Regions from separate parts of the Homo sapiens genome. Here regions 1, 2, 3, 4, 5 and 6 are each reported to be linked to region 7. The links are microRNA targets in miRTarBase. Many come from high-throughput screens and were not tested one by one. Region 7 holds a microRNA gene; each other region holds the end of a gene's coding sequence.
The links. The annotated mature microRNA hsa-miR-211-5p reads UUCCCUUUGUCAUCCUUCGCCU and lies in region 7 at 2,272-2,293, opposite strand. An mRNA with a match to its seed (bases 2 to 7 or 8) in the 3' UTR can be bound and repressed. Matches are read on the target gene's strand: a 7mer-m8 pairs with bases 2 to 8, a 7mer-A1 pairs with bases 2 to 7 and ends in A, and an 8mer does both.

Region 1 (4,000 bases), not on the chromosome of region 7:
CTTGTGGCCTGCAGAGATAAGAGAAAGGTTAACTAGTTAAGGGTCCTTTGGTTTGAAATCCTGGAGCAAATTAAGGAAGAGCCACTAAGGCTAATGCAATTACACTGGATCCTGTGACAGACATGTCATGCTTCATGGGTCACATGGTCTGTTTCTGCTCCTCTCTGCCCTGGTTGGTGTGGGTTGTGGTGTTAGAGAAATCTCAGGTGGGAGATCTGGGACTAGGACATTGTGTTGGGAGAATAGATTTGCTTCCATACCTTTTAAGTGTATATCTTTTCCTCTTTTTCCCAGGGCACTCTGGACTTCACCCAACAGGTAATACCTTTTAATCCTCTTTTAGAAACAGATTCAGTTTTCCTAGAATGATGGCAGAGGTGATAAGGCATGAGACAGAAATAGCAGGAAAGACTTTGGATCCAAATTCCTGATCAGGCAATTTATACCAAAACTCCTCCTCTCCACTTAGGCCTGTGCTCTGCAGGAGTATTGGTTCAGGGAGACTTAGGAACTTGTTTTTCTTCTTCCTGCAGTGCTCTCATCTGAGTCCTTGAAAGAGAGGAAAAGAAGCTGTTAGTGGAACCAGGTCTGAAAACAACACTTTCCTCTCTCTCTGCAGGACTCGTGAGCTGAAGTGCAGATGACCACATTCAAGGGGGAACCTTCTGCCCCAGCTTTGCATGATGAAAAGCTTTCCTGCTTGGCTCTTATTCTTCCACAAGAGAGGACTTTCTCAGGCCCTGGTTGCTACCGGTTCAGCAACTCTGCAGAAAATGTCCATCCTTGTGGCTTCCTCAGCTCCTGCCCTTGGCCTGAAGTCCCAGCATTGATGGCAGTGCCTCATCTTCAACTTTAGTGCTCCCCTTTACCTAACCCTACGGCCTCCCATGCATCTGTACTCCCCCTGTGTGCCACAAATGCACTACGTTATTAAATTTTTCTGAAGCCCAGAGTTAAAAATCATCTGTCCACCTGGCTCCAAAGACAAAAAATAAAAAGAAAAGAAAAAGGGAAGATTATTTCCTAATAGCATAATGGTTTTTATATGTATTTCATAAGTATGTGAGGTAATGCACATATTAAATAGCTTGATTTAGTCATTCCACACTATAGGCATATATCAGAACTTCATGCTGTACAACATAAATATACTATACAATTTTTACTTGTCAATAAAAGTAAACCTAACATTTAAAAAGGCAATGCATAAAAATTGAGAACAGATTATAACAACTGAAACAACTTGGCCAACATGAGATGAGAAACCAGCTAGCAAGTCAATCAGAACTCTTCCTTAACCTATTCTAAATACTGCGTATCCATAACTGTAAATTGCATATAATTTTTCATTCCAGAAACTTCAATAATACAATATTATCCAAGGACTTGTACAGATTTCAGAGAATGACAAATTTAGAAAATGGAGGGTTCTCCATTGTGTTTTGAGAGTCAGTATCAAATATGTCAAATCTAAACGGTACATAATCAATGCAGAAGCCTATTTCAAAGTAATAATCATTTGAACATAATTTCTCTACTGTCAGAGACAATTATTTTACTTTCAATCAAATTCAATGTTTATGCATATTTTATTTTTAGCTATATTGCATGTTACTTGTACATATATAGTAGGTATGTACAAGTACATAGAAATCCTGTAAGAATATAAATCCTATAGGAATATAATAAGCTGATAATTATGTCTGATCTGTTTGATTCCAGAGTTGCAATAAAATAGGCTTTCTTCCCTAAGTTGAGGAAATGATTTGTCTCATTTTATATGAGACTTGTGGTGTGGAATTATAAAGAAGAACGAAAATGTGTGGGATGAATATTTCTTTTCTTTTCTTTTTTTTTTTTTTTTGAGACAAAGTCTTACTCTTGTCCCCCAGGCTGGAGTGCAGTGGCGCCATCTCGGCTCACTGCAACCTCCACCTCCCGGGTTCAAGCGATTCTCCTGCCTCAGCCTCCCGAGTAGCTGGGATTACAGGCGCCTGCCACCAAGCCTGGCTAATTTTTGTATTTTTAGTAGAGATGGGGTTTCACCATTTTGGCCAGGCTGGTCTTGAATTCCTGACCTCAGGTGATCCACCCGCCTTGGCCTCCCAAAATGCTGGGATTACAGGCTTGAGCCACCGCGCCCGGCCAAGATGAGTATTCCAATGAAAATGCCTTCTGCTGCTAATAGCAGGAAATCCCATCTAGCAGGCTTTATTTTTTTTTAACCCATGATCTCACATAGCCGTTAGATCCAATGCTGGTTGTCTCCAGGATTGCTCAACTCAGCTGGCCAGTGGCACCTCCAGCGATCCTGAACTTCATCGCTCATCTCTCTTAATACACAGCACGTCAGCTTTCCTGCGATGGTCGGAGGACCCCTGCAGCAGCTTTAGGTTTCTTATTCTTTCACAGCAACTCCCAGAGGTAGGAAAAGGATACTCCTTTCTCCTGTGTGCCTTTATAAGGAGCAACTAAACTGTTTCCAGAGTGTTCCCAGTACCCACTTTCTCACACATTGGAATGACCGTGGGATCACATGGGCTCAGACAAGCCTGGATTCAACATTTGTAGAGTGGGCCTGACACACATGGGAAGAAAAGGAGCAAAATCATACATTTTTAAAAGTAAAGAAATGGTGGCTAGAGTAGGAGAGATTGATTTCAGGGTAGGGAAATGATAGACTGTGGTACCATTGGGTTGTTAGTATTTGTAGTTAAATTCCACATTAAGGCCTATAGATTGCTGATAGGCATCCTCAATTCAGGGTTTTGGGTCGTTTTATAGATATATATATATATACACACACACATACACACACACACACGGAATATATATATATATATATATGTGGAATATCTATATATGGAATATATATATACATGGAATATCTATATATGGAATATATATATACATGGAATATCTATATATATGGAATATATACATGGAATATCTATATATGGAATATATATAGAATATATATGGAATATATATATAGAAATATATATATAGAGAGAGAGAGTATGAAATGTCAGCCGTTAACTCAATTACAATAAAACCAAAAAGCAAGCAAAAAGGATTGTTTTTAGAATTCAAGTATGCTGACATGTTATTTTATGAGGTAAATTCATTTTCCAGGGAAATTTTTGAAAAAAAGTAGAGTAAGGAATGACTAGCTCTGTAAGATGGTAAAACATACTATACATTTATTTTTAAAAATGCATTTTTTTTTTTTGAGACGGAGTCTCACTCTGTCCCCAGGCTAGAGTGCAGTGTCACAATCTCGGCTCACTGCAACCTCTGCCTCCCGGGTTCAAGCAATTCTCCTGCCTCAGCCTCCCAAGTAGCTGGGACTACAGGCACATGCCACCACGCCCAGCTAAGTTTTGTATTTATAGTAGAGACGGGGTTTCACCATGCTGGCCAGGATGGTCTCAATCTCTTGACCTCGTGATCCAACCGCCTCGGCCTCTCAAAGGGCTGGGATTACAGGTGTGAGCCTAAAAATGCATTGTTACTGATTCTCTTTTTCATTAAATATGCTAGTAAAACAAAGTCTAGAATTAGAAACAGAAAGAGTTGATATTTAGTTTCAGTTTTTGGTAAGCTGTATTCCAAACTCATTTTTTTCACTGAATGGATCCTGGTTGAATAAAAATTGAAACATAAAAAGAAAATATAAAATTAACAAGACATGTTATTTCTAATACTATCATCATCATTATAATTATGTTTGAAGACAGACTTTCTAAACCCTTATGTGTTGCTGGTGGGAGTGTATGATTTTACAAATACCTGGAAATTTGGCAGTTTCTTAAAAAGTTTAACATATGTTCGCCATATGACCCCCCAATTTCACTCCTTGGAATCTATGTAAGAGACATAAAAACATATGTCCTCACAAAGATATGTGTTCAAGTGTTCAGAACAGGCTTTGCCTTAGTTGGCCCAAACTGAAAACAATCCAAATGTCCTGCAACTAGTAAATGGATAAACTACATCC
Region 2 (4,222 bases), not on the chromosome of region 7:
CTTGGGGCAGACTGGCCCCGAGAGGGAGCCACCATCTCCCCTGCTCCAGGGTCTCCAGGGTCCGAACCCGTGTTGGGATCTGGGTTAGGATTAGGGTTTGGAGCTTGGAGCCTGCCTGTTAGGACCCCCGGCCCCGGCGCCGACTGGAGCTCGCTGGAGGCCACAGGACCACGGCGGATGGCCTGGCTGCTTCAGGGCGTACCATGCCCGCAGGCAGATGTTTATTATTAAAAACTACCGACGTTCATCAACCAGGAGACCCGCAAGGCCTGCGCACTGAATACGGCCCAAATCCTGTTCAGTGGTCTTTGAAAGTTAAAAGAAAGAAACCTATCGCCCACGTCTATGCTGAGGAACAGCTTTGAATACGAGCTAAGACCTGGGAGAGGGCCAAGTGGGGGTGGTGGGGAACACTGCTGGAGGATGTGGGGCTTTGGCAGGGGTTTTACGCACCCTCCAGCACGAGGGTGGGGGGTCCCAGGGGACGCTCAGGACTCTTTCAGTCTTTGCGGAAGGTCCCGTCATCACAAGAGCCCGCGCGGGAAGGAAAGTTCCTGCCTTGGACATGGTCAGGGCCGAGTCTTCAAAGTCTCCAACTATCCCCACACAGGCAGCACCTTTGGGCTTTACTAGTGGGATTTCTTCCAGAAGGGGGCCACGACATGGGGAGAGAGAGCTCCTCATTATTTTCAAGGCCAGGCTTTTCCTAAACCCGATTCTGGCTTCCACCTTCTAAATTTAACCAATGAAGAAGCTGCTTCAGCCAACCCTAAACAGGAGTGTCAGATGGGGAATCCTCCCTCCACAGTGCCCTGGCCTGCCCGCCTTTGCGGCTCTTTTCCCGCTCCGAAGTCAGCACCTGCCCCGCTCCAGAGAGGGTCAACGAACTGGGACTGATTGTCGATTATGCCATACCAAACCCAGGTTGATTTCGCTCCGCAGGATCCCTCCTTCCTTCCTCCCAAAAGTGTCCCCAGATAAAGACTGGAATTATAGCAAAACGAATAACGAGAGTCCATCTTGGGGAAGGAAGTTACTCTATCCTATGTTATTTTACTTCTTATCTGTTCTTTCATTAATTTGGTATAACCCTGTTTCTATGCTGGGTGGATAAAATGGAGGGGGCCGGCGGAAATGCGCTCAGCGCTAACGACAGCCACAGAGCCACCCTTCTTACTGCCCCTTGACTGCGGCACGTAAGAGCAGAGGCAAGCGCTTTTCCAAGTTGGTATATTCGAGAGAGTGATACGCATTAATCAAAAGGGAAAGACTATCCCGGATATTTTAATAGTAACAGGAACAAAGATGACTCGAACCCCATCAAATGAAACGATATTTTCATTCAATTGATCGCAAAGTGTCTTCAATTAATAACTTGGCACTTATTTAAAAGGTTTAACAGAATTGGAGGCGACACATTTTGTACTGACAACACGTCATGAGATAACATCTTTTGTTTAAAATAACTTAATACACTAGAAAAAAATATGTCAAATATAAATAATTTTGTTTTCATGGAGAACAAATAGTTACAAAGCTCAACCGCATACCAAAGTTCAGTTAGAAGAGCTTTTCCTCTTTCTTGTAAATTAGAAGGTAAAACAAAAACAAAAACAAAACCCCACAAACTTAGGCTTGCTAGCGAATTGGGATACAGACTGGCTTAGTCCAAGGTATCCCAGTTTAAATAGCTACATGAATTGAAACAAACAACCAAAAGAAAAAAAAAAACAAAAAAGAAACAAACAAACAAAAAAAAAAGGTTACTTGAATAGATACACCTTTGTGAGATAAAATGCAAATGTTGAAAGTCAGTCCACACATTATAGTCAAAATAAACTTTGTTCGTGTGTATCAACATATCTTACACAAACCTAGTGCCTGTATCTAGCTGGGTGTTATTTAAGGTGAATTTGACGGGATAGAGAGGGGGAAATAAACCACTGTCTTCAAATAGGACTTCAGGAAACCAACAAGAAGGAACACAAGAAAAGGGGAATGGTGGGAACTAATACTGATTGAGCGCCTACTGTGTCTGGCACAGCGAGGCGCTGTACCTTCATTATTTCATTTGGTGGTCTTGTTTTCTTTTTCCTTTCCCCACATATTCTGCCCACCTCTGTCTTCTTAGGACAATGAGTGTAATTTTTTCCCTTTCTGACTTTTTTCTTTTGTTCCCCAGGATCAAAGACAGGGCAAATATATATATATATATATATATATATATATATATATATATATGGCAAATATATGATATATATATATGGATATATATATATCAATTTCCAGATACTTTTGGTATTGTTTTTCATAGTGAAGATGAAAATGGAGTGAGTGCATGGGAGATAAGGGGGTGGGAGGAGACACACCATCAATGGAATACAAGTAACATGCAAACCGGAATTTACTGTCAGCAGTCCAGACAGTTTTGCCATAATAATTTCTCAGAGAAATCATTGTCTGTGGCATTTTTTTGTGTTAATATTATTTTTCTCTCTCCTCGTTTTAATATTTTCTCTTTTCTTGCTCTTCCATACATGGTGGGTTTAAACTCAAAGCATCTGATTCAACGTAAAAGGAGGCCCGCCTCTCTCATCAAATTTCTCGTGTTAACGTGAACTTCGCAGAAAAAGGTCAGTTTCAAAACCTGTGAACTTCCCAGCTGCGCACTTTTTTCATCTTAGTTTTTTAAATAAGTATACCTCTTCTTTCTGCTTTGCCTTCTTAGCGCATTTTTAAAAACACACATTTAAGTTGGTAACTCCCCCCAGTCTCTCGAGAATCGTCTGGGTTGTTTTTCCATATTTTTAAATGTATAAAATACTTTAATTTTAAAATTTGTTTTTGCTCCTTGGTTCTCCAATTTCAGCTTCTGCCAAATAGCAGTTAAGAAATAAGTTCCCTTCCTCTTTTTCTCTCCCGTTTGTCTTTCGATTTTTTTGTTTGCTCATTTTTTCATTGTTAACAAGATTTTTTTTTCTATGCAAGAGTCCATCGTTGCAGCTTTGCGGTGAGCCAAACTCCGCGGTTCCAGCACTCCCCTGTCCAGTCTCTCTCCAGACTCCCCCAAACCCGCTCCTACAAAACCCAATTCTAGGCCCTCGAGTAGGAAAACGGGCAGGAGCCACGGAGCCTGCGTGCCTCGTGAGATCCCTGGTCCTGCGTGGAGTCTGGCTTTCCGAGTCCAAGATGCGATAGGGGACGAGGGATGGTCAGTGAGGCGGGAAGAGGGCCGGCTCCCGAGGTCTCAAAGGGGTAACGGAGAAGCAGCGGGGCGCGGAGGGCGTGCAGGCTGAGTGCCGCGGGACAGGCGCGACATTGGTGCTGGCGTTGGCGTCACAGACCCAGGGCTGCGGCGTGCTTTTTGGCTTTCAGTCTGAGATCGGCGATGCTGGAGTTCTTGCTGGTGGTCTTGGCGGCTGCTGCGGCCGCCACTACCGAGGCGGCGGAAGCCGAATCCGCGGCCAGCGTGGCGAGCGGCAGTCCGAAGGGCGGTGCTGGGAACATCATGTAGGGCGCGTGCGCGGCCAGGTGCGGATGCAGGTGGTGGTGCGCGTGCGCCACAGCGCTGTCCAGCTGCAGCTGCGCCTGAACCTGAAAGGACAAGGGCGTCACGTTGCAATGACTATCCTAGGGTGACAACAGAATAGAAACAGAGCATTAACGGCGTCCAGCTTGGCCAGAGAGAGAGTTGGGTTGTGTTTGGGCACGGGGAGAGGGCATTTGGCTGTGCATCTTGTTCCGACAGTGACCTTCTCAGCCTGTTGCTGAATCTGGGGTTCCACATGGATACTCCAGTGTCCCCTGGGTCTCCGAAACTCGCTTAGGGTAGGCTTATTTCCCCGGACCCCGGGAACCCCCTTCTGCAGGAATGTGGCCGTCTCCCCTGGGAACTGGGCTGAAATGGTATATTGGAAAGACTGCGGGTGAGGACCCTTACCCTCTTCTCTTGATGCTGCCATGCATCTCTTACCCCACTACCAAAACAACGGAGTATCAACAAGCAAACTACGCAACTTTTTAATGTCATTCAGGGAAGTTACTCCATCTTCACCACAATAGGCACAATTGTGAGTCGGTACTTCTAACCTTTATTGCCATAACAATTACCCAGGGATCTCGTTAAAATTCAGATTCTGATTCGCAAGGTCTAGGTTGGGGCCTGAGATTCTGAATTTCTAACAATCTCCCAGACGGTGTTGTTGCTGCTGGCCCAAAGATT
Region 3 (4,271 bases), not on the chromosome of region 7:
TCCGCTCGGTCATCAAGCAACAGGACGGCCCCACCAAGACGCACAAGCTGGAGAAGCTGATGATCCGCCTGGGCCTGTTCACCGTGCTCTACACCGTGCCCGCCGCGGTGGTGGTCGCCTGCCTCTTCTACGAGCAGCACAACCGCCCGCGCTGGGAGGCCACGCACAACTGCCCGTGCCTGCGGGACCTGCAGCCCGACCAGGCACGCAGGCCCGACTACGCCGTCTTCATGCTCAAGTACTTCATGTGCCTAGTGGTGGGCATCACCTCGGGCGTGTGGGTCTGGTCCGGCAAGACGCTGGAGTCCTGGCGCTCCCTGTGCACCCGCTGCTGCTGGGCCAGCAAGGGCGCCGCGGTGGGCGGGGGCGCGGGCGCCACGGCCGCGGGGGGTGGCGGCGGGCCGGGGGGCGGCGGCGGCGGGGGACCCGGCGGCGGCGGGGGGCCGGGCGGCGGCGGGGGCTCCCTCTACAGCGACGTCAGCACTGGCCTGACGTGGCGGTCGGGCACGGCGAGCTCCGTGTCTTATCCAAAGCAGATGCCATTGTCCCAGGTCTGAGCGGAGGGGAGGGGGCGCCCAGGAGGGGTGGGGAGGGGGGCGAGGAGAGCCAAGTGCAGCGAAGGGACACTTGATGGGCTGAGGTTCCCACCCCTTCACAGTGTTGATTGCTATTAGCATGATAATGAACTCTTAATGGTATCCATTAGCTGGGACTTAAATGACTCACTTAGAACAAAGTACCTGGCATTGAAGCCTCCCAGACCCAGCCCCTTTTCCTCCATTGATGTGCGGGGAGCTCCTCCCGCCACGCGTTAATTTCTGTTGGCTGAGGAGGGTGGACTCTGCGGCGTTTCCAGAACCCGAGATTTGGAGCCCTCCCTGGCTGCACTTGGCTGGGTTTGCAGTCAGATACACAGATTTCACCTGGGAGAACCTCTTTTTCTCCCTCGACTCTTCCTACGTAAACTCCCACCCCTGACTTACCCTGGAGGAGGGGTGACCGCCACCTGATGGGATTGCACGGTTTGGGTATTCTTAATGACCAGGCAAATGCCTTAAGTAAACAAACAAGAAATGTCTTAATTATACACCCCACGTAAATACGGGTTTCTTACATTAGAGGATGTATTTATATAATTATTTGTTAAATTGTAAAAAAAAAAGTGTAAAATATGTATATATCCAAAGATATAGTGTGTACATTTTTTTGTAAAAAGTTTAGAGGCTTACCCCTGTAAGAACAGATATAAGTATTCTATTTTGTCAATAAAATGACTTTTGATAAATGATTTAACCATTGCCCTCTCCCCCGCCTCTTCTGAGCTGTCACCTTTAAAGTGCTTGCTAAGGACGCATGGGGAAAATGGACATTTTCTGGCTTGTCATTCTGTACACTGACCTTAGGCATGGAGAAAATTACTTGTTAAACTCTAGTTCTTAAGTTGTTAGCCAAGTAAATATCATTGTTGAACTGAAATCAAAATTGAGTTTTTGCACCTTCCCCAAAGACGGTGTTTTTCATGGGAGCTCTTTTCTGATCCATGGATAACAACTCTCACTTTAGTGGATGTAAATGGAACTTCTGCAAGGCAGTAATTCCCCTTAGGCCTTGTTATTTATCCTGCATGGTATCACTAAAGGTTTCAAAACCCTGCATTCATTTCTGGAGTCCGTGATTTTGAAAGCACCTGGTGTTCCAGGGAGGGAACGCATTGCTGAGGTGTAGAGGTTAATGTTTTAAACCATAGCTCACCCTTTACAGTAGAAGTCACTTGACAATCTGGTAGGGGAGCAGGCGCTCTTCAATGGATTAAACTAACGGGTTAACATCTTAATAACCTTCAGTGCTTGTGTATACCAAATGTGCTGCTTTTCCTAGAGAAAAAGCTATTGTTCCTCTGTCAAGACTAAGCTAATTTATTTGAGCAGAAGGCTGTTGAATTAGCAGAAGAATGCTTCGGCAATTGTTGAACTTTTTACCTGTCTGCCCAGTGGCTCAGCACATCATTCCTTTAAGAGGAGCTAAATGAATAGGGTTAATCTGTAGGGAACTTGGTCTTTTGAGTTTGAAAAACTTTGATCTTTTCTCCTCTGCAAATGTGCTGTATAGTCTGAAGTTTCTTTCCCTGCTGCCTATCTCCTCTTAGTGCAGACCAATTGGCCACCGCGGAGCCTTAAAGTTCTTCCATTAAAGGGATGTGGGACTTTTACTTTAAAAAGGAGAGAGAGCGCGAGAGAGGAAGACTTGTAACAGTTAGTGAAGACCGGAGGCACAAGTGCTCAGCCTTTTAAACAGCTTTTCCCGGCATTGTTAGCCAGCCTGCAGGCAGCTAGGCATGGGTTGAAGCTTTATAGAAAAGGGCTCTGAATGCCCCACAGGTGGTCTGCGCACATAATCCCCCAATTTAAAGCGTTTTCCTTTGCTGGACAATTGCATTACAAAACTCCCTTCTTTTTCGCTCCTAATTGAACCAATGAACTATTATAAACTACAAGTTTTTCTTTAAAAAAATTGCCGGTGCCTAAATTCTATTGACTAAATTCTAGCAAGTTTTCTAACTGAACCTTTTAAGGCACCGGAAGTAAAAGCTGCTTCAGCAGACGTTTCTGTTTCGCGGATATTTTTATTCCTTATGCTTGTTATTTTCTGACAGATTAGCAATAATTTAAAAGTAATTGGTAAGATTGTGTGTTAATACTGAAAAGATAGCCCCAGGTCCCTTATTAACCTGTCAATCAAGATAAGAAATGGGCAGCTACCCTGCTAATGATGGGGCATCAATCATTGTGGGATGGGAGGGGCTTTGTTCTGCACATCCTGCTAAAATGTTTGTTCTCCTTACTTTACCTAATAGGAATCTTTAGTGGCTAAAAAAAATTTTAATAGAGTGGACGCTACTTTCTTGGCCGATCTTTCTCATGTAAGAGGCTTCGCATAGGATCTCCATAGTAGTAACATTTTGCAGATCCTTTTCAGAGTAAGTCTCGGTGTTAATTAAGTTATGCAATTAGAACCCCTGCTTTAGCTATCATGCCAATCTTATTTTTTAAAGCCAGAGACACTGTAAAAGTGTTCACCTCTCCAGTAGTTTTACTCATTAAAGAATTATTTTGTAACTTAGGTACCTATCAGTGGCCTACATCTAACCCACGTGTTGACTCATGTATAGTATACATATGCCAGCCATAAACTTTTTATATTCAGTTATAAAGTAGAATTTTGAGAGCAGATCCCAGAGTCTTTACCACATATGAAGGATGGAGAGAAAGCTACAAGACACAAGTTAGCATGTTGGCTTTCTCATGTAGCAGTATTGTCATTATTGACGCATTTTCAACTATATAGCACAGTGGGAAAATGTCCAGCTTTGAAGCTTTTTACCTTATTCTTCAATATATCATTATAAAATGCTATATTCGATAACTCAAGATGTATGTGTGTTTAAGCGAACTTATTTGACAAAAAACCCAATTTAAATTCTGAGGACAGTTCTCAATAAAAAGACCTGCATCTGTCATCACTAGAGACTGATTTTAGAGATGGTATTAAGACATAAGTGCTGGTTCTTTGCCTTTAAAGCTAAAACTTGAGTTGCATATTTGCCAGTACTCAGATGGTATCTACTAAGGGAACAAAACCCCAAAATTGATTTTAGGGTGGAAGAAAGAAACGAGTCTCTATCTGGCCAATTGCATTAGACAAATGAACACCTCTGTGTGCTATACAGGTGTGTCTTTAATTACATAAAACAAGTGTTAGTTTTTCAAAATCTTGTCAAATTGGGAGAGGGGTTGATGTGGTTGCTGTGTGGCTAGAAGATCAAGTCTAACATGATTAAAACCATTACTAAAGCCAAAGCTCATTAAAATTGCTTGTGGGAGAAGTTATGTGAAACACTTTCTATTTGCTTTATAATAAATGCAATTTGAAAGTACCATGAAACAGAAGGGAAAAAAGTTGATAAGAAAGTTTAAGGAGTAAACCATGGCACATTACAGTTTCTTAACCTGCACTGACCGCATTGCTGGTGCCTGTAATACTTCAGAGTTTGGGCAAAGAGAGTGAGATTGTCTTGCCAAAAGAAAACCAGGAGCAGTTGCAGAGCACGGGATGCAATTTAAAGTGTAGGTGCAAACGTTCTGTTGAGACATAAAAAGCAAATCAGTGCAAGTGTCTATCCGCTTTCCACATTTGATACTATACTGCCATCTGGTGGTAGTACGGGGTCCCAGAACCAGGAAGTTAGGGAGGTTCCTTCATTCAATTCATTC
Region 4 (4,271 bases), not on the chromosome of region 7:
ACCCTCGGCGCAAGGTGCAGGACCCCCCAGTGGTGCACGAGCTGCGGGTGTCCCTGGAGGAGATCTACCATGGCTCCACCAAGCGCATGAAGATCACAAGGCGTCGCCTCAACCCTGATGGGCGAACTGTGCGCACCGAGGACAAGATCCTGCACATAGTCATCAAGCGTGGCTGGAAGGAAGGCACCAAGATCACCTTCCCCAAAGAAGGCGACGCCACACCTGACAACATCCCTGCTGACATCGTCTTTGTGCTCAAAGACAAGCCCCATGCACACTTCCGCCGAGATGGCACCAACGTGCTCTACAGTGCCCTGATCAGCCTCAAGGAGGTGGGGCCTAGTCAGGCTGTGTGTGTGTGCTGGGGAGATGGTGGGGACATTCCCTCTCTTCCCGCCAGCTGGCACATTCTTTCCCCACCTCAGTCTATTTCCTTCCTTCCCACTCACCTTACCCCACCTTTTCCTCACTTTCTGCTTCGTCTTTCCCAGGCGCTGTGTGGCTGCACTGTGAACATTCCCACTATCGACGGCCGAGTGATCCCTTTGCCCTGCAATGATGTCATCAAGCCAGGCACCGTGAAGAGACTCCGTGGGGAGGGCCTTCCCTTCCCCAAAGTGCCAACTCAGCGAGGAGACCTCATTGTTGAGTTCAAAGTTCGCTTCCCAGACAGATTAACACCACAGACAAGACAGATCCTTAAGCAGCACCTACCCTGTTCCTAGGCTCTGCCCCAGCCAGTCCAGAGCCTACCACAGCAATACCCCCAACACTCACTCCACTCAATGTGCACCCAGCTTGATGTCCACTGGACACTGGCAACTTTTTCTAAAATGCAAAAAAAAGCCACTGGTTTTCAGGAAAATGTTCCTGTCCCTGACCCCTTTTAGAGCTGGGCTGCCTGGGGGGAGTGGGAGGGAGGTGGGGAGAGCTAGCCCAGGCCAGGGGTCAATGTTCATGTCACTAGCTTTCAATCCAGTTTCCACTGCAGTGGCTGGAGAGTGACCTGAGTGCTACTTGAAGATATGTAGAGATTCCTTATCCATGCCTGTACATAGCATGTCCTCCTCCCCTCAGCTTTGCTAATACCAGTCCCCTCCCTTCCCTTTGGCTTCCTGCTGTTGGGGGTGGAAAAGACTAGAAAGGACATTGCTTTCTCAGCCCCACCCCCAGGTCCACAGTGTCCAAGGTAATGGCACACATATTCATGCACAAGAAGCACTCACCTAGAGCTGTCTGTGCCTCTCTGGGAGAAAGGAGAGAGGATAAGAAGGGAAAGTTCACAACCTGTGAACAGGGACTTGAGCACGAGACACTTTTCATCTGGAGCAGGGGGGTGAGCTCCTCAGCAGCCTCCGTAACAGCTGCCCTGCCTACACCTGCAGAGCTGGAGGTTCTGTCCTCCCTGCTGCTCTCAGGAGTGTTCAAGGGTGGAGGGCAGGGAATGGGGCCTGAGGTATTAAGGCTAAGAGGTGGGGGACAGGGCCCATCTACCAGCCTTCATCAGGAAGGGAAAGGGCTTTGGGGTCAGGTGGCAGCTATTCCCCACCAAGAGATTCAGGGTCACAGGTTTTTCCCCACACCTCTGAACTCAGGGCCTAGCCACCCCCAAACTTCCAAATCCCACTTTTGTGATATGTGAAGCTACTCATTTCTTACCCTTGGAGGCTGTGTGGGGAATTTCCAGCCCTTTTATGCCTGTGTGATCCCACCCCACCCCCATAGTTGTATAAAGGTCATAGTGAAGAAGCTGGGGGAAGACTGCTTCAGCCAGATCCTGGGGTGGGGTCTTTAGGTTTTCTCACTTTGACAACCCCCGAATGTTTTTATAGTAGTTTTTTTGTATTTTTTTGTAATGACAGTATTATGTAAAAAATAAAGTATTTTAAAAATATGGCATCTGAGCAGGAGCAACAAACCTGGGATGGGGGTGGCTGAGGAGGGCCACTGTCATCCTCCCTCCCGGGCTCTGGTCACCTTTGAGAAGCCCAAGCAGGCCCTCAGTATAAGCTGAAGCTGACCTCTGCCTTCCTCGAAGCCTCCTGGGATTTCTAAAACTTATACTTCAAACACAGCACAGACAGAAAGTACCACTCAGCTATTAGAAGAAACATCTATTTGGGAAGGAAAAATATCCCTGCTCATGAGAGACAGAGACCATTGTCTTCAGATGTGCTAGCATGAAAACAGATTTTCTCTTCTTGTCTAAATTTTCTCTGAGTCAGACAAATTTTCCTTCTAGGAGAAAATTTTTTTCTAGGAGGGGGTGGAGAACTTTTTTTTTTTTTTTTTTTTTTTGACACGGAGTCTTGCTCTGTCGCCCAGGCTGGAGTGCAGTGATGCGATCTTGGTTCACTGCAGCCTCTGTCTCCTAGGTTCAAGCGACTCTCCTGCCTCAGCCTCCGAGTAGCTGGGATTACCGGCATGCACCACCACACCCGGCTAATTTTTGTATTTTTGGTAGAGACAGGGTTTCACCATGTTGCCCAGGCTGGTCTCAAACTCTTGACCTCAAGTGATCCGCCTGCCTTGGCCTCCCAAAGTGCTGGGATTACAAACATGAGCCACTGCTCCTGGCGAGGCTGAAGGACTTTCTGGCTGACTAGAAGAGCTACCCCCAAGTGTTTGGGCCCGGAGTGAGGAGAGTAGCACTCTTGTGCAGGATATTGATTTCACGGAGGATGGTGAGCGAGAAACCACTATCTGGGGGGGGATATCTGTGGTGACGAGGATTTATTTGACTGTAATGTGCTATGTACGATGAACGACTGAATGTACGATGAAAAGTACTGGTCGATATTCCTGTGGGAAGGTATGTTCTTTGGAAGTATGGAGTTGATGTATTATAATTAAGGTTTTATGGTTCTGGCTTATAAGCATGTTCTATGAACAATAGCTGTGAAAAGTGCTTTCATATGTGCTATGTACAGTTAAACACTTATAGTACTATATAATATTCATGGTGGCTAGCAGTAAAAGACAGAGCCTGGACATTGGAGAGGGTAGCCAGAGGTACCTGGCCTCCTTGGCCCACGCTGGTGAGGCCTGGCTATGGACACAGGCTCCCTGAGAAGCACTGAACACAGCTGCAAATCCTCAAATCTCAGTTATCTAGGGATGTCTGTCCTGGCCTCTGACCTGCCTGTGTCTACAGAGACAACTCTGGCCCTCAGGACCTGAGTGGTGGCTGCATGAGGGGGCACTTGTCCCTTTCCTGCGGTCTGGGTAGAAGGAGCCCTATAGTTGAAGAAATGCCCATCTGCGGGCTCTGCCTAGCCCTGGACATCCTCCTGGGGCTGACTTTGAGCATGAATCCCACATCTTCTCCAGGATCAGGCCCATGACAGTCATGCCCTCCTGAGTGCCAGTGTCCCCAGTACTATCCAGACAGCACTGCCTTTAGCTGGGCCAGGCTTAAGCTGACACTAATTGGCTTTTTTCCCCACAATAAAGACACTGAAAAAAACCTCCTCATCCTTTCACCTGAGGTACTTTTGTACCCCGTTCGAAAGGAGAAAATGTGCAGAAACCAGGGGGTCTTGCTTACAAGGGTATCTGCTAATCCCCTGGCCTGAGCAGGGAGATGCCCGCACCCTACATCCCCTACTCAATGCTCTCCTCCTTTGGGGCTCCTAGGGTAGCCTCTCTCTTGACTTGTGGCTAAATTCTTGTCCAGGATTTTTCCTGAGGCCTGAAGATTTGGGATTCTGGTCTGCTGGGCCAAACTGCTCCCTTTGGCCTCTGTGTAGACACACAAGACCTGGGAAATTATCATGTCCTGCTGAGCACACTCTGGGGATAGGATTTTTTTTTTTTTAGACAGAGTTCACTCTTGTTGCCCAGACTGGAGTGCAATGGCATGATCTCGGCTCATCGCAACCTCCGCCTCCCAGGTTCAAGCGATTCTCTGGCCTCAGCCTCCTAAGTAGCTGGGATTATAGGCGCCCACCATCACACCTGGCTAATTTTTGTATTTTTTAGTAGAGACGGGTTTTCACCATGTTGGCCAGGCTGGTCTTGAACTCCTGACCTCAGGTGACCCTTGGCCTCCCAAAGTGCTGGGATTACAGATGTGAGCCACCGCGCCCAGCCGGGAATAGGATTTTGAGAGCCTAGAAGCAAGGCTATCTGAGGCAAGGGACACTTCAATGAGAAAGTCCTAAGGCTGACTGCAACCTTACCTGCAATTTGAACCTTACCCTTCTTAGAGACTGCATGAGGAATTTCTGCTATTGTGATGCCTGTGTAACCATCCCTAGAGACAGGCATGC
Region 5 (4,267 bases), not on the chromosome of region 7:
CTGTGTGAAGACACAGCAAAAAGGTCATCTATAAGCCAGGAAGAGAGCTCTCACCAGGAACTGAATTGGCTGGTACCCTGATCTTGGACTTCTCAGCCTCTAGAACTTTGAGAAACAGGTTTCTGTTGTTTAATTCATCTAGTCTGTGGTATTTTCTTATGACAGGCTGAGCTAAGAGAGGGAGGATGGTGGAACATTGGAAGATGGCAGTGCCGTCAAACCCATCTTGTCCCAAACATCCCTTGAAGGTCCCAGAACCATTCCAGAGTGGGATGTCCTGTCTTAGCATTCAAAGTATCTGTAGGTGTTACCCCAACCCAATCCCCAGAAACTGGAAACATTCCACTTGGTGCCATCCTGAAGTGTCTGTAACAAAAATTCTACACACTTGAGTCTTTTTCATCTGTTTTATTAGCATCAATATATACAAAGTGGAAAATGACTTAATTTCATTATTCTAGCTTAGAAAGTTTGTTTTGCTTTTTATTTTGTTTGGCGATAAAATGGAAATGAAAATTTCCCAGGAGAATGCCTACCTTTGGGGGTGCTGAACAACTCAAATAATATCTGACCTCAAATGACTCGTCATGCCTAGTCAAGGACATAGGAAGATCATGCCCTTCGGATTCACTCGAAGGGCATTTTTGCCTGAGGCCCGTGCCTCAGCCTAAAGCTACCCACATATTTGCCAAATCACTACTTGTTATACAACCCTCCTGATTATGCAGATGCTTTGCTTCCTTCTGGGCTGTTTGGCAGTCTTCAAAGCTATCAGCCTGAGGTTCTGTAGGCTCTCCAAGGGGTGAGCTTCAAAGGATCATAGTTAAAGCACATCTATGAAACTAAGTAAGAATGGCCATCAGGTAGCAATCAGAATACTTATGTTAGCTAAATAATTCTACAAAAAAAAAAAAAAAAAAGCAAAAAGCTGAGCTCCAAGCTAAAGAGGGTTGAGTGTGTGCATTTTTAAAGCACAGGGTGGTAGCTGACAGATACAGCTTATATGAATTAGCATGTAATACACACCATCACATGCATTCTCTGAAGCTCACAATCTCTGTAAACGTATTTCCCCACTGTTTTAAAAACAAAGAGTGGCTTGTAGGAAGGCTCAGTCCATTCTCGAGTTTCTCAAGAGTGTATCCTATTCAAAAATATTTAATCCCAATGGGTTTTAATATTGATCTTATAAAAACAGACGTACATGAGCTGTAATGAGATGCCTTGCACATTTTTGGCACTATTTTTTTTTACCTTTACGTATTACAAATACACATTCAGATATTTTAAAAAGAAAAATAGACACCAACCTGTCTTTTCAATCACACTGTACATTGTTGAACTCGTATGATCTGTCTCTAGGCTAAAACAAACTTTTAAAACACGGTTACGGGTGTGGTACTACTAAGACAGAACTGAGACACTGGTCTTCTGAAAAAAACAACAATGACAACAACAACAAAAAAACAAAAAACACAACGCCTTTTCTATCTTTCCAATAGTCAATAAGAACATCTGGGGTGTGGCCTGGCTAGTTTTGGGGATAGGGTTAGAATAAAGATTTATATTTTGTCAGTCTTTATAAAAGGCAAATGTTTAGTTTTCACATAACCATAACACGTTGTAAAATCAAATATTATTCATAGAGTTCTTCATTCCAGGTGACCCAGGGTTAGGGTTAGAATAAGCATCAAATAAAATGGATTGAGTTCTGCCTTTTAAGGAAAGGTTACATTATTTGTGTTGTTATCTTTCTCCAAACATGACATTGTCCACTAATGGCCTAGAACACTTCTCTGGTTCTTGCATTAAATGGGGCTTTGGGTCCTGGAAAGCAGCCTTTAGCTATTTCTTGCCATGGACCACACACTCATGCCTTCAGGAGTATATGTGCAAGATTCTTTTCTGGCAGAAGGAAAATATTCTGGTCTTAGACCCCCAAGATTGAAGTCTGAGTTCCTGCTGTCAAGGAGGGTACATGTGTGCCTAAAATCAACTTTCCCTATCTTGCTTAAGATGTTTCCAATGTAACCACCAAAACATAGACTCCCTGCTATTCTCCCTATGGCCAGAAAGGTCTTTTCTTGTTTGAAAACCAGCAGACTTGAAACAATTCCAGAGAGAATGGGAGGGCACCAAAGAGGGTTCCAAATGCCACTGTGCCCGTCTGTCTGTCCAAGCCATTGACTGTCACCACCATGTCACCGGTCCCAGGAAGGTGAATCTGCTTCACACATAGTATTTCTTCCATGCACCCGCACCCTCCACCTTCTCTTTATACCTGTATTTAGAAAAGAATCTTCCCAAGAGTTACACACTCACCGGTTTCACTGGGTTGGGGGAAAACAGACCCTGATAAAATAAGAGGAATGCCCGTGTGACTAGATGTGGGGCTATGGAATCCTTTCTGAATGAAATTCCTCTCTCTGTCTTCATTGATGTTCAGATCAGATGATACAGGATTCCACTGGATGGTCTGCTGTGATTTAAAATCCCCTGCCCCTGTTCTCTGCACCTCCTCAGTCAGCATTCACACCACCCTCCAACATCCAGACAGCTTTGGAGAATAGAAAAATAGTTTCTTCTCATGGGACCCTCCCGCCCCCTGAAATACTTGATGGCAAGTATATTCTGAAGATGACACCTTTTAGAGAATCAGTGCACTTGAGTCTCCTCTATTTTGAGGGCTGAGATATTCCAGAACCCCAGGAGAAACCAGAGCTCACCCCTGCATTTCCAAACATGGCACCTCCTTTTTCCCATCACAAATCCTTGTCACTGTATGAGTGGGGCCGCTGGTGCCTCCCAAGCCTGTGTGTTTATTACCACAGCTTGAGAGTGGCTTGCTGAACATGGTGATCGATTCTGGCACTTGTAGCATAAATTACACGCTCTTTCATCATTGAAAGAGTGTCAAAGAAAAGAACATTTTAACCCAATTCCCTTACCCAATGATCCCCCTCACCCAATTCTTCATTGGAACTCTCAAATCTCTCATTTGTCTCTGAAAAATTGCCTTTGGTCGTTTATCACCTTTCTAGAAAGAAAACGTTTTCTTGTTTTGTCACTGTCCAGCGAGGCCAGAGTGGTAAAAGACAATGTTTATATAACACCTTTGCTACCTTCAGAAGAACCGTGAGAGGGAGGGGCTGTGGAAAAACCTTTCAGAAGCTGGCAAAATGGGAAGAGAGGACACAGAATTTGTTTAGGAGCACAGCTCTCCAAATGGGTTTAAGTACCCATGCTAAATTCCAACCCAAACTAAGCCAACAAGAAATACCCTTTCCAACCTAATCTTGGGACTTAGATTTGTACTGAAAACATCATGGGCATGGTTCCCAAAGATGCATGCAATTCAATGCAGCCTTAGCATGGCATTGCTGATGGGAGAAACTCCATCTGCTGTTTTGTGTTTTTGCTGCCGCGGTTTGCCATTTTGCAAGTCTTCCACCTGCCTTCAGAATTGAGGCTGTAACATGAATTTGGCTGAGGCCGCGAAACATCCAAACCCACACCTATTTCACTTTTAAATATAATAAATACAGGGAAGAAAACAGTAAACCTTTGATAAAGAGTCTAAACAAAAGACAGTCGACATTCTGGGGTTTCAATCAAGTGCCACATGGTCTCTGGATGAATGTCTCGAGGAGATTGTGGTTGAGTTCACAAGTCCCCTTCTCAAGTGTAGCTCTCTTTAGATAGAAACCTCATACTCTCTGGTTTCCTGCAAGAGAGAGAAGCACGGATTTGTCAAACGCTTGTGTGGTAGAGTGATATACATAGGGGGATGCAGTTCTTTGCACCTCTGTATGTCCATGCCCTTGGTCGTGACTTTTCAGTGCCCTCCCACTCTGACCCTGATTTGCTTTTGCCAATGGGTTATAAGGAAATGGCGTACAACAGCTGCTTGAAACATGCTTGTGTGTTTCTGCTCACATCCTGTCTATCTGTCATCACCAAGAACAGGGCATGCCCTGGTAGGCTTTAGTCTCTTCAGGAAAATGAAGGACACACAGAGCAGAGCTGAGTCACCCATCCATCAACCAGCCAATGCCAGGATTACCATCCAGCTGAAATAAGCCTAAAACGCTGTCCCACAGACTGATGAGCAAATGAATGCTTGTTGCATTAAGCCATTGAGTTCAGAGATCTTTGTTACTCAGCATTACTATAGTTCTAGGTCACTGATACACTCTACTAATAAGTATTCATTCATGTCTAGTCTCTAAAATTCTCCTTTATTTCAGTCTGACCTTTTCCCATGATT
Region 6 (4,271 bases), not on the chromosome of region 7:
TTGCCTGACACAAGTGCCTGCTACCAAGCAAGCACGCAGGTGATGGTGATGGTTCTTTTTGTTCTATTGTGGCGTCACATTCAGGCATTCAGGCGGAAGCCCAGATTTCCGCACCAGCCCCAGTTGATCTGAATCCTGTTCAGATCTTCTTCTTGAAGCTGTCCATTTTTTGGATTTCTTTAATAAAAAAGATTATCTTTATCATAGGTAAAAGTGTAGAAAGATAGGTCCCCAGTGGTGGCTCGCCATGGATGATGGGATGTAGTGTGATTTTCATTTTTGTGTTGCTGGTTTGGGGATTTGGGATAAGGGTTCTTGTTTATTTTTTTTTTCTCCTCTGTACTTTCTCAGCTGTCTGAAGTGGTTATGTATTTATTGTGTCATTGTTTTTTAAGGGAAAAAAAGAGTTATCACTAAATCTCTTTAAAAATAAATTACTTTAGCATCTGCTGACAGTCTGCCAGTGTTTGCACCTATGTATTGCAAAGACAGGAATACCTCCCAGTGCCCTAGAAATTGTAGGTGAAATCTTCTGTCTGCGTCTTGAAGCTCTCAGCTGTGTGTTTGTTTTGTTCTTTTTCTAGGTTACAGCACCATGAGCCCACAGGAGGACAGTGAAAATCCTCCATGCAACAATGACCCCTTGTCAGCCGGGGTCGATGTGGGAAACCATGATGAGGACTTAGACCTGGATACCCCCCCTCAGACTGCTGCCCTACTAAGTCACAAGTTCCACCACTACCGGTCACACCACCCTACACTTCATCATAGCCACCACTTACAGGCGGCCGTCACGGTACACACTGTCGATGCAGAATGCTAACAATCTCCTCACCTCCACGCCAAGATGAGATCTGGGAGCTACAGAATGTTCTGGAAAGAAAAAGAACCGGCTTAAAACCCACAGCAAGAGACCTCCCTTGTGTTTGTGCTTTGTGCAGAGTTGTTTGAGTCATTTCCTGCCTGTCGACATGGTTAAAAACGAGAGAAACAACAACACAGTCACATTTGTGAAGATGTGAGGCTGGTTCTGAAATGGAGGGGAAATAAGCCTGATGAACAGACCTGCCATAACACTAATGGAAGGTAACAGAAGGCGAACCTCCAAACACAGAGACGGAACCTGCAAGTGAAGCTGAGCCAGAGGAATGTTCCAAAGAGCCAGAAGCATTCAGCTCTCCTTAACTGGAAGAGAGAAAAATCTGCTCACCCAGAGACTGGAATGTGGCACATGCAGATACAAATGTGTGCATTGAAGATTTCGCTTTGTTTCTTAGCGGTACCTGGATACCACAGTTGCTGTATGGAACTCATGTTATGCTCTAAACGATGCATCTCAGAATTTCTAAGTAAAGGATTATTTTTCTACTATTTATTGAACTTTCAAACATTCTCAAACTTTGGGGAAAAGGAAAGGAAACACAGGAGAAGTTTTCAGCAGTTGCCCCGAGCTGTTTTGTGTGTAATGAAGTGGTTCTTTGATTAAGGAGCTCTATTTCTTATTTAACTGATATCCCACTGCCCCACTCCACAAAATAGGAAAATGAAGAAATCTTTCTCTCTGACTTGTTTACATCATTTCACGGAAACACATCTTTGTTTGTAATGCAGTATTCTTTCTCTGTGTTTGACAGAGATGGGGAGGGGCAGAGGAATTTAAGAGGTTTTAAAAGAAATGTTATGTTTCTTATGACTTGTTTCCACTCCTCGTACAATGCTATTCTTAGGTTTCTACGAAACCTAATGTTAGAACCGCATCCTTTCAGCTAAGGGAGGGTTGGATTTATTTTCCTTGTTTTAGAGACTACAAATTTTTAAATATCCCATTTTGACTGAGAATATTGACATATAAGGGAAGAAGTTTTCTAAATTGTGAAAGTCTGGTTCTTAATTAAAGAATTTTTTTTTTAATATCACGGTTAAAAGCTGCTGCCAGTTAGCCAAGACATTATCCACCAAATTGCTTTGTGATTTATACAGGGATTAATCAAATCTGGCTACTATAACATGGGGCATTGTAACTTTAAAGTAGTGTTTTAATTACAGTGATGTATTTTAGACTCACATTTTGTGATTCAAATATGTTATAAAGGCATTCTTGCACCATGGTAAAGAATGTGTGTGGTAAATCTCCGTTTATATGTAGTTGGAAAAAATTCACTGAATAATGTTTTAATGATAGGGTATTATGATACAATGTAAAAAACAATTGGTTCTTCAGCAGTACAGAAAGTAAACTATATATGTGCTATCAGGAAACCCCTTCATACTGTGTATAAAATTGCAATCTAGTGAAATAAACCGTATGCAATGGACCATTTTAGTGGCTACAGTGATTTGTTAATGTACCACTCCTTGTGCCTCAAGGCAAGTTACATTCATTTTGTAACCTAGCCAGGTCAGTTGCCAAACTGAAAATAGACCTCCTTTCAATGCTACAGTCAACTTCTAGGGCTTCTTGACCATCTAGATCAAATATGCAAACAACTTAACAATATAATGGGATAAAAATGTATAGAACATAGCTATCCCTTCCTGAGCATCTATATCCATGTCACTAATAATAAATGGTTCTTCTCTAACTGCTAGAAGGATTAAATGAGTTTCCTGCCTTCCCAGAAAATTAAACTTCTTCATGGGATACTAGTTTGTTTCCTAAGGTTGAGAAACTCTGTGTTAGGAAATTGATTGAGGAGGGAGAAGTGCAGTGGAAACTTGGTGCTTTCAAGAAAAGAATCACAAAACTTAGAGCTTAAAAATGAAATAGGTACCCCTATAGAAACACAATAACAGAATACATTTTGTATCTTTTGGGTTTTTTTGTTTGTTTTCGTTTTTGAGATGGAATCTTGCTGTGTCACCCAGGCTGGAGTGCAGCGGCATGATCTCTCAGCTCACTGCAACCTCTGCCTCCTGGGTTCAAGTGATTCTCCTGCCTCAGCCTCCTGAGTAGCTGCGATTATAGGTACTTGCCACCAGGCTCAGCTAATTTTTGTATTTTTAATAGAGACTGGGTTTCACCGTGTTGGCCATGCTGGTCTCGACCTCCTGACCTCAAATGATCATCCGCCTTGGCATCCCAAAGTGCTAAGATTACAGGCGTGAGCCACTGCACCCGGCCCATTTTGTATCTTTTGTGGTAAGAGTTTTTCCTATTCCGAACTTGAGGGGAAAGTAATTGAATGTTTATACCTAAACCAAAACATTGCTGAGTTTTAAAGATCCTGTGAAATATGACATATAGGCTGAAGTTTTGATCCTCTATAATTATCTTTTATCTAATCCAAGGGTTACATATAATGTCATTTAAACATTTGTTGTCATTGTTTAAAAGGAAAAATATGTTTTCAGAGACTTTTTATCATGGTGCCAGTTACCAGTGTTTGTTAAACATGAGTCTTCCCTGAGATCCTGAAGGAGGTCCTACCAATATCTTTTCATTCACCAAAGCCTCCTGCTGCCAGTAACCAACATTGCTTATCAATGTTGGTAAGTATCAAAGCTAAGGAAATTCCAGGTCACTTTATATAGCTAGGAAAAAAATGTCCTATTGTAGCCCAAGGAAAACGTGGCTCAGGCTCATGCTAGTCCTCATGGTATATACAGTTCATCTGCATTTCAGATAGGTTTATTTTAGAAATTTTGTAAACTATACTGTAGGGTATGTTTTTTCCTCCAGTTGATTGAATACTCAACTAAACCTCATTGATAATATATTTGAAAAACTTAGGCAATATGAACTTGTTTTGCCTCTCAGAGTGACTGTTATGTGGAAAGAAGTCCTGAAATACCACAATTTCATTTCCCCATGGCGATGGACTATCCTAATGATCACATTTTTAAAAATTTATATCTGGCAAAATAATTATATTCTTAAAACATGCCAGCCGGATCCAGGTGCCATGTCTCACACCTGTAATCCCAGCATTTTGGAAGGCTGAAGCGGGTGGATCACTTGGTCAGGAGTTTGACCTGACCAGTATGGTGTAACCCGGTCTCTACTAAAAATACAAAAATTAGCCAAGCATGGTGACACATGCCTGTAGTCCCAGCTACTCTCAAGGGAGGATTGCTTGAGTCCAGGAGGTCCAGGCTGCAGTGAGCTGAGATCACGCCACTGCACTCCAGCCTGGGCAACAAAGTGAGACCCTTTCTAAAAATGAAACAACAAAACAAAACAAAAACCCATACCAGCCAGGTCTCATCTATGTTCCTTTTGGTCTGTTTCAGAAGACAGGAGTAGTGATTTTCCTGGCTGAGATAGAATGCCA
Region 7 (4,117 bases):
CAAAAAGTAACCATAGTCAAACATCGTATTCTCACTTGTCCTAAATTCCAGCTTTGTTGCAAACTTTCTAAGGGCAAATGAAGTTGGAAATGAGGGAGAGAGAATTCCATCAGGAACACCCTGCCTCTGATGGTTCCCCTGGATGCTGACCTGAGGAAATGGGAGAGGAGATCTAGCAAATCTTCCTGATTTAAACACGTTTGGAATGTCTAAGCAGACCACTTTAGATTTTCTCCTTGGCCCGACAAAGAGGGAGTTACGAACCCGCCCTTCCTCGCGCGTCAGAAATCCTACCCGCCTTCTTCACAGTACTTGTGCGCAAAGGACAGGATGTCCGAGGCACGTCCGCTGCCATCACAAATCACCACAGGGATGGGAGGCTCTTCTTGCAGGTATTCCAAGACGATGGACACCACGTTAGGGCCCCCCTCCACCACGAGACCCACGAGGGGCACGCCCTGCCCCAGTCCTGCAACACAAACCACATTCGCCCATACCACCTGTGCCCTGCACTGTCCACCCAGTCGTTTTAACTCCTGAAGTATGGGGAAGAGTAAAAACATTACGACTTGGGGGATGTTCTATCTGGCTGGAAGGAATTCAGGCATGTGATAACAATTTTCTTTTTCTTTTCTTTTCTTTTTTCTTTTTTGAGACAGAATCACACTCTGTCCCCCAAGCTGGAGTGCAGTGGCATGATCATGGCTCACTGCAGCCTCAACCTCCCTCTCAGCTCAGGCAATCCTCCCACCTCAGCCTCCTGAGTAGCTGGGACTATGGGCACATGCCACCACACCTGGCTAATTTTTGGTAGAGATGAAGTCTTGCCATGTTGCCCAGGCTGGTCTCAAACACCTGGGCTCAAGTGATCCACCTGCCTTGGCCTCCCAAAGTGCTAGGATTACAGGTGTAAGCCACTGTGCCCAGCCCAGTTATCATTCTTGCATTCTGTCACATATTATGGCCTCATTGGGAAAACCAGGACCTCAAAGTCTGAAACTTTCTGACTCACATATGGTTAAACTCCTGAATAACCCACCCACCTGATGTTGGGGCTACTTCAAGGTGACCACTGAGAAATATTGGAAGGTATTCCTGGCTGGAAAAATATCCCCCTGGCTGTCCTAGCCTATGGTCTGAAATTCCCACCCTGATGGCTGTCCCTGAAGAATAAGATGATGAAAGGGGATCTGGACCAGCCAGGGAAATTGCAGTTCAATTCCTGGCTTCTCCCTTATGACACTGGGCCAATCACCAAATCACCAAGAGCCTTAGACAGCCATTTGTAAAAGGTGAACAATCACAGTGCTTCCTTTAACTCCTGCAGTTGTAAAAATATCAGAATATGTGTTTGGCTAGCAAATAATTTTGTAAACGTTAAGTAGCATACAAATGAGGTACACTGTTCTTGTTGACGTTTCTGTCTTCAGTGGCTGGAATAAAGTGCAGATCTTGGACGCAGCCACTTGGACCACTAGTGGCCCATCAGTTAATGACCTGTTCCCAGAGTCCTCCCTCTGTCTCTATCAGTTAATAGGACTCTTCAAGAACACAGTGGGTACCAACTAACTTTTGGTGGCAGAACCTGCAGGCATGGCTCTGGGAAGCAAGAGGTGGCAGGAAGATTCCAGGAAGTTGGGATTCTGGAATGGGAAGGAAATGGGAGTGGAGGCACATTTGCCTACTTCCTAATTTTATGCCACACTGGCCATGACAGATCACACTCTGAGCCTATTTCACCAGCTGTCCATTAGTTGTGATGGGAATTAGTTGATCGATATTAACTAAAGGCAAGTGGAAGTATCGTTGGTCTCAGCTCTGAAGGGCTTCAGATAAAAATCTGCCAGCATTGGTTAAGAGAAGATTGGAGAATTTCAAATGAGCCATTTCAGAGTTTCTAATTTGCTTCCATGAGGTGTTTCTACAGTCAGGGACTCTTACATATGTTGAATAACTCTGCTGTGTCCACCAGAGTAATTACAGCTAAGTTCATTTCAGCAGACATGCATTGAGGGTCTGCTTTGTGCAAAGCCCTGACCAGGAGATATTGGAAAAATGAACTAAGATATCCTGGACTCCGCCTTTGAGATTTCCAACCCAAGCAAGGATTGATATTTTCAATCTTTAGGAATATGGTGGCCAAATCACCTTCTTTTCGAGCAACAGAGTAGAACAGGTTCTTCTTGGCTTAGGCTGGAGTCCTCGAAGCTCCGTGCTGTGGGAAGTGACAACTGAGCACCCCTTTGCTGTCCCTGCCCTGCTCAGAGCCCTAGGCGAAGGATGACAAAGGGAAGCCCACAAGTCACATGGCCAGGTGAAATGGGGTGTTGTAAAAACTTACAAGTCCAGAAAAATTAGAGATGTGAGAACAAAAAACATTCAGTCATCGACCAATGTATTCTTCGAGATCTGATTCTCGGAAATCTACAACTTTTCCTAGTAGGCCATCCCCATTCTACCCACTCTGCAGCATCACAGTCCCATACATGATGATTCCCAATGACCATTCGCCAGGACTAGATGGTCTCCCACAAAAATCTTGCCAGTAATGGGAAAAACAAACTGCTCTTTCAGATCATTTAACAATTGTTTGACGTTAAGAATTACTGGAGTATAAACATGCTCCAAGAGATTATACCAGTTATTGTAATTCTAACCAGTTGTTATCATTGTTTCTTCTGGTTGAGGTTTGCGTCTTTCTCTCTAGTTCGACCTCAGCTTTCGTCTGACAGTGACAGCTCCCCCTCAGGACCAGCAAGGATGATGCCCCTTCAGGAGCAGATGGCTCCTGCAGCCCTCTCCAGATATGTCCCCACCTGGCCATCTTAGTCTACATGAAAGGCCCAGCATTACAGAGATATTTAATAATCACATAATACTTATCAGCAAATAGAAAGAATCCTACTAAATCTTTGAGAAATTGTTTTCCTGTTAAAACACTTAAAAAATAACAACTAATTACAGGGAACAAGAACCACTGGGCAACAGGGTGGGCAAGGCCATCACCATGGCGAGCACTGAGGGTTATTTCGTGCTAACTTGTGAACCTGGGGCAAAGCATCCCCATGTAGCCCAGTGAATGTGATTTGGTAGGTGGCTAAGGTAAGACATCTAGGTGAGTCATTTTCTGTTGACCTAACAAGAAGCAAGGTTAATCTTCTAATCCCCTTGGGCAATCAATCTCCTTCTCAGCCTTGTTTCCACTGTGATGGCATCAGCCCAGGAGGACTGCGTGCCTTTGCCAGCACTTACTTGTGTTGATCTTCTGCAGGGAGATGTGCTTTTCCAGCAGCCTTCGCAGCTTCACCTCGGCGCCATACTTGCCCAGGGTGCCATTGTCAGCCAGGATGAAGTGGGTGTGGGAGTTGTTGAGCACAGAGAGCTTACTTAGAGGGTTGGACATGGTCTGGTACACTCTTGTTACCTGACAAAGTGCACAGCGCAAATCAGACCTGCAGGACTTGGATGTTAAGACCAACAAGGGAAGCAAGCACAATACATATGTGTGGAGTGACTGCACTAAAACTTATTCTCACATCTCTACCCTGCCTTTTGAAGGTTTTATTTTTGCCAATTGTTACATTAAAATAGAAAGAAAGTTAATTGTTTTAGATAATGACAACCTAGCAATTGCACCCCTGGCATTTATCACAGAGAAATGAAAACCTATGTTAACCTCAAATCCTGCACTGGAATGTTTATGGCTACTTTACTTGTAACAGCCAAACTGTTCCTCAACAGACAAATGGTTAAAGAAACTGGTGCCTCCATATCATGGGATGTCAGCCAGCAGTAAAAAGGAATGAAGACCAATACATATGGCAACCTGGACGCGTGTTCAGAGAACTATGTGGAGTGAAAAAAAAGCCAATCCCCAAAGGTTACATTACTGTATGATTCCATTTACAGAACCTTCTTGAAATGCGGGGTGGTGCAGATTAGTTGTTTCCAGGGGTTAAGGAAGAGGTGGGGGTAGGAAGGAGTGAGGTATATGTATATGAAAGGGCAACAGGAGGGATCCTCGTGTTGATGGAAACATTCTGCACCTTGACCTTATCAATGACAGTATCCGGGTTGTGATCTTGCATTATGGTTTTGCAAGATGTTACCATTGGAG

Region 1: miRTarBase lists HLA-DRB5 as a target of hsa-miR-211-5p. Seed matches in the 3' UTR shown: 8mer at 1,007-1,014.
Region 2: the mRNA of SHOX2 is a reported target of hsa-miR-211-5p. Seed matches in the 3' UTR shown: 7mer-A1 at 2,899-2,905 and 8mer at 2,150-2,157.
Region 3: the mRNA of FZD8 is a reported target of hsa-miR-211-5p. The part of its 3' UTR that is shown has no 7-base or 8-base seed match.
Region 4: the mRNA of DNAJB5 is a reported target of hsa-miR-211-5p. Seed matches in the 3' UTR shown: 7mer-A1 at 1,271-1,277 and 7mer-A1 at 1,509-1,515.
Region 5: the mRNA of SEZ6L is a reported target of hsa-miR-211-5p. Seed matches in the 3' UTR shown: 7mer-A1 at 2,940-2,946.
Region 6: miRTarBase lists CACHD1 as a target of hsa-miR-211-5p. Seed matches in the 3' UTR shown: 7mer-A1 at 1,851-1,857.

The regions. Positions count from the first base shown.
Region 1 is chr6:32,514,372-32,518,371 of GRCh38, reverse strand. It overlaps HLA-DRB5 (major histocompatibility complex, class II, DR beta 5), which reads left to right. Exons shown (of 6, transcript NM_002125.4): 5 at 295-318; 6 at 620-1,019. The coding sequence ends at 633. Among named protein-coding and RNA genes, the nearest start is that of HLA-DRB5, 14 kb to the left of the region's middle.
Region 2 is chr3:158,094,691-158,098,912 of GRCh38, forward strand. SHOX2 (SHOX homeobox 2) reads right to left here. Exons shown (of 5, transcript NM_001163678.2): 5 at 1,215-3,594. The coding sequence ends at 3,337. Among named protein-coding and RNA genes, the nearest start is that of SHOX2, 9.6 kb to the right of the region's middle. RefSeq lists an enhancer at 3,308-3,477.
Region 3 is chr10:35,635,631-35,639,901 of GRCh38, reverse strand. It overlaps FZD8 (frizzled class receptor 8), which reads left to right. Exons shown (of 1, transcript NM_031866.3): 1 at 1-1,655. The coding sequence ends at 557. Among named protein-coding and RNA genes, the nearest start is that of MIR4683, 3.5 kb to the left of the region's middle. RefSeq lists enhancers at 237-1,098, 1,785-2,407, 1,588-3,448.
Region 4 is chr9:34,996,535-35,000,805 of GRCh38, forward strand. It overlaps DNAJB5 (DnaJ heat shock protein family (Hsp40) member B5), which reads left to right. Exons shown (of 5, transcript NM_001349723.3): 4 at 1-332; 5 at 492-1,894. The coding sequence ends at 725. Among named protein-coding and RNA genes, the nearest start is that of DNAJB5, 8.9 kb to the left of the region's middle.
Region 5 is chr22:26,379,723-26,383,989 of GRCh38, reverse strand. SEZ6L (seizure related 6 homolog like) reads right to left here. Exons shown (of 17, transcript NM_021115.5): 17 at 394-3,724. The coding sequence ends at 3,695. Among named protein-coding and RNA genes, the nearest start is that of ASPHD2, 47 kb to the left of the region's middle.
Region 6 is chr1:64,690,739-64,695,009 of GRCh38, forward strand. CACHD1 (cache domain containing 1) reads left to right here. Exons shown (of 27, transcript NM_020925.4): 27 at 585-2,315. The coding sequence ends at 823. Among named protein-coding and RNA genes, the nearest start is that of RAVER2, 52 kb to the right of the region's middle.
Region 7 is chr15:31,062,824-31,066,940 of GRCh38, forward strand. MIR211 (microRNA 211) reads right to left here and starts at 2,318; the gene lies at 2,209-2,318. It overlaps TRPM1 (transient receptor potential cation channel subfamily M member 1), which reads right to left. Exons shown (of 28, transcript NM_001252024.2): 7 at 3,253-3,424; 8 at 295-469.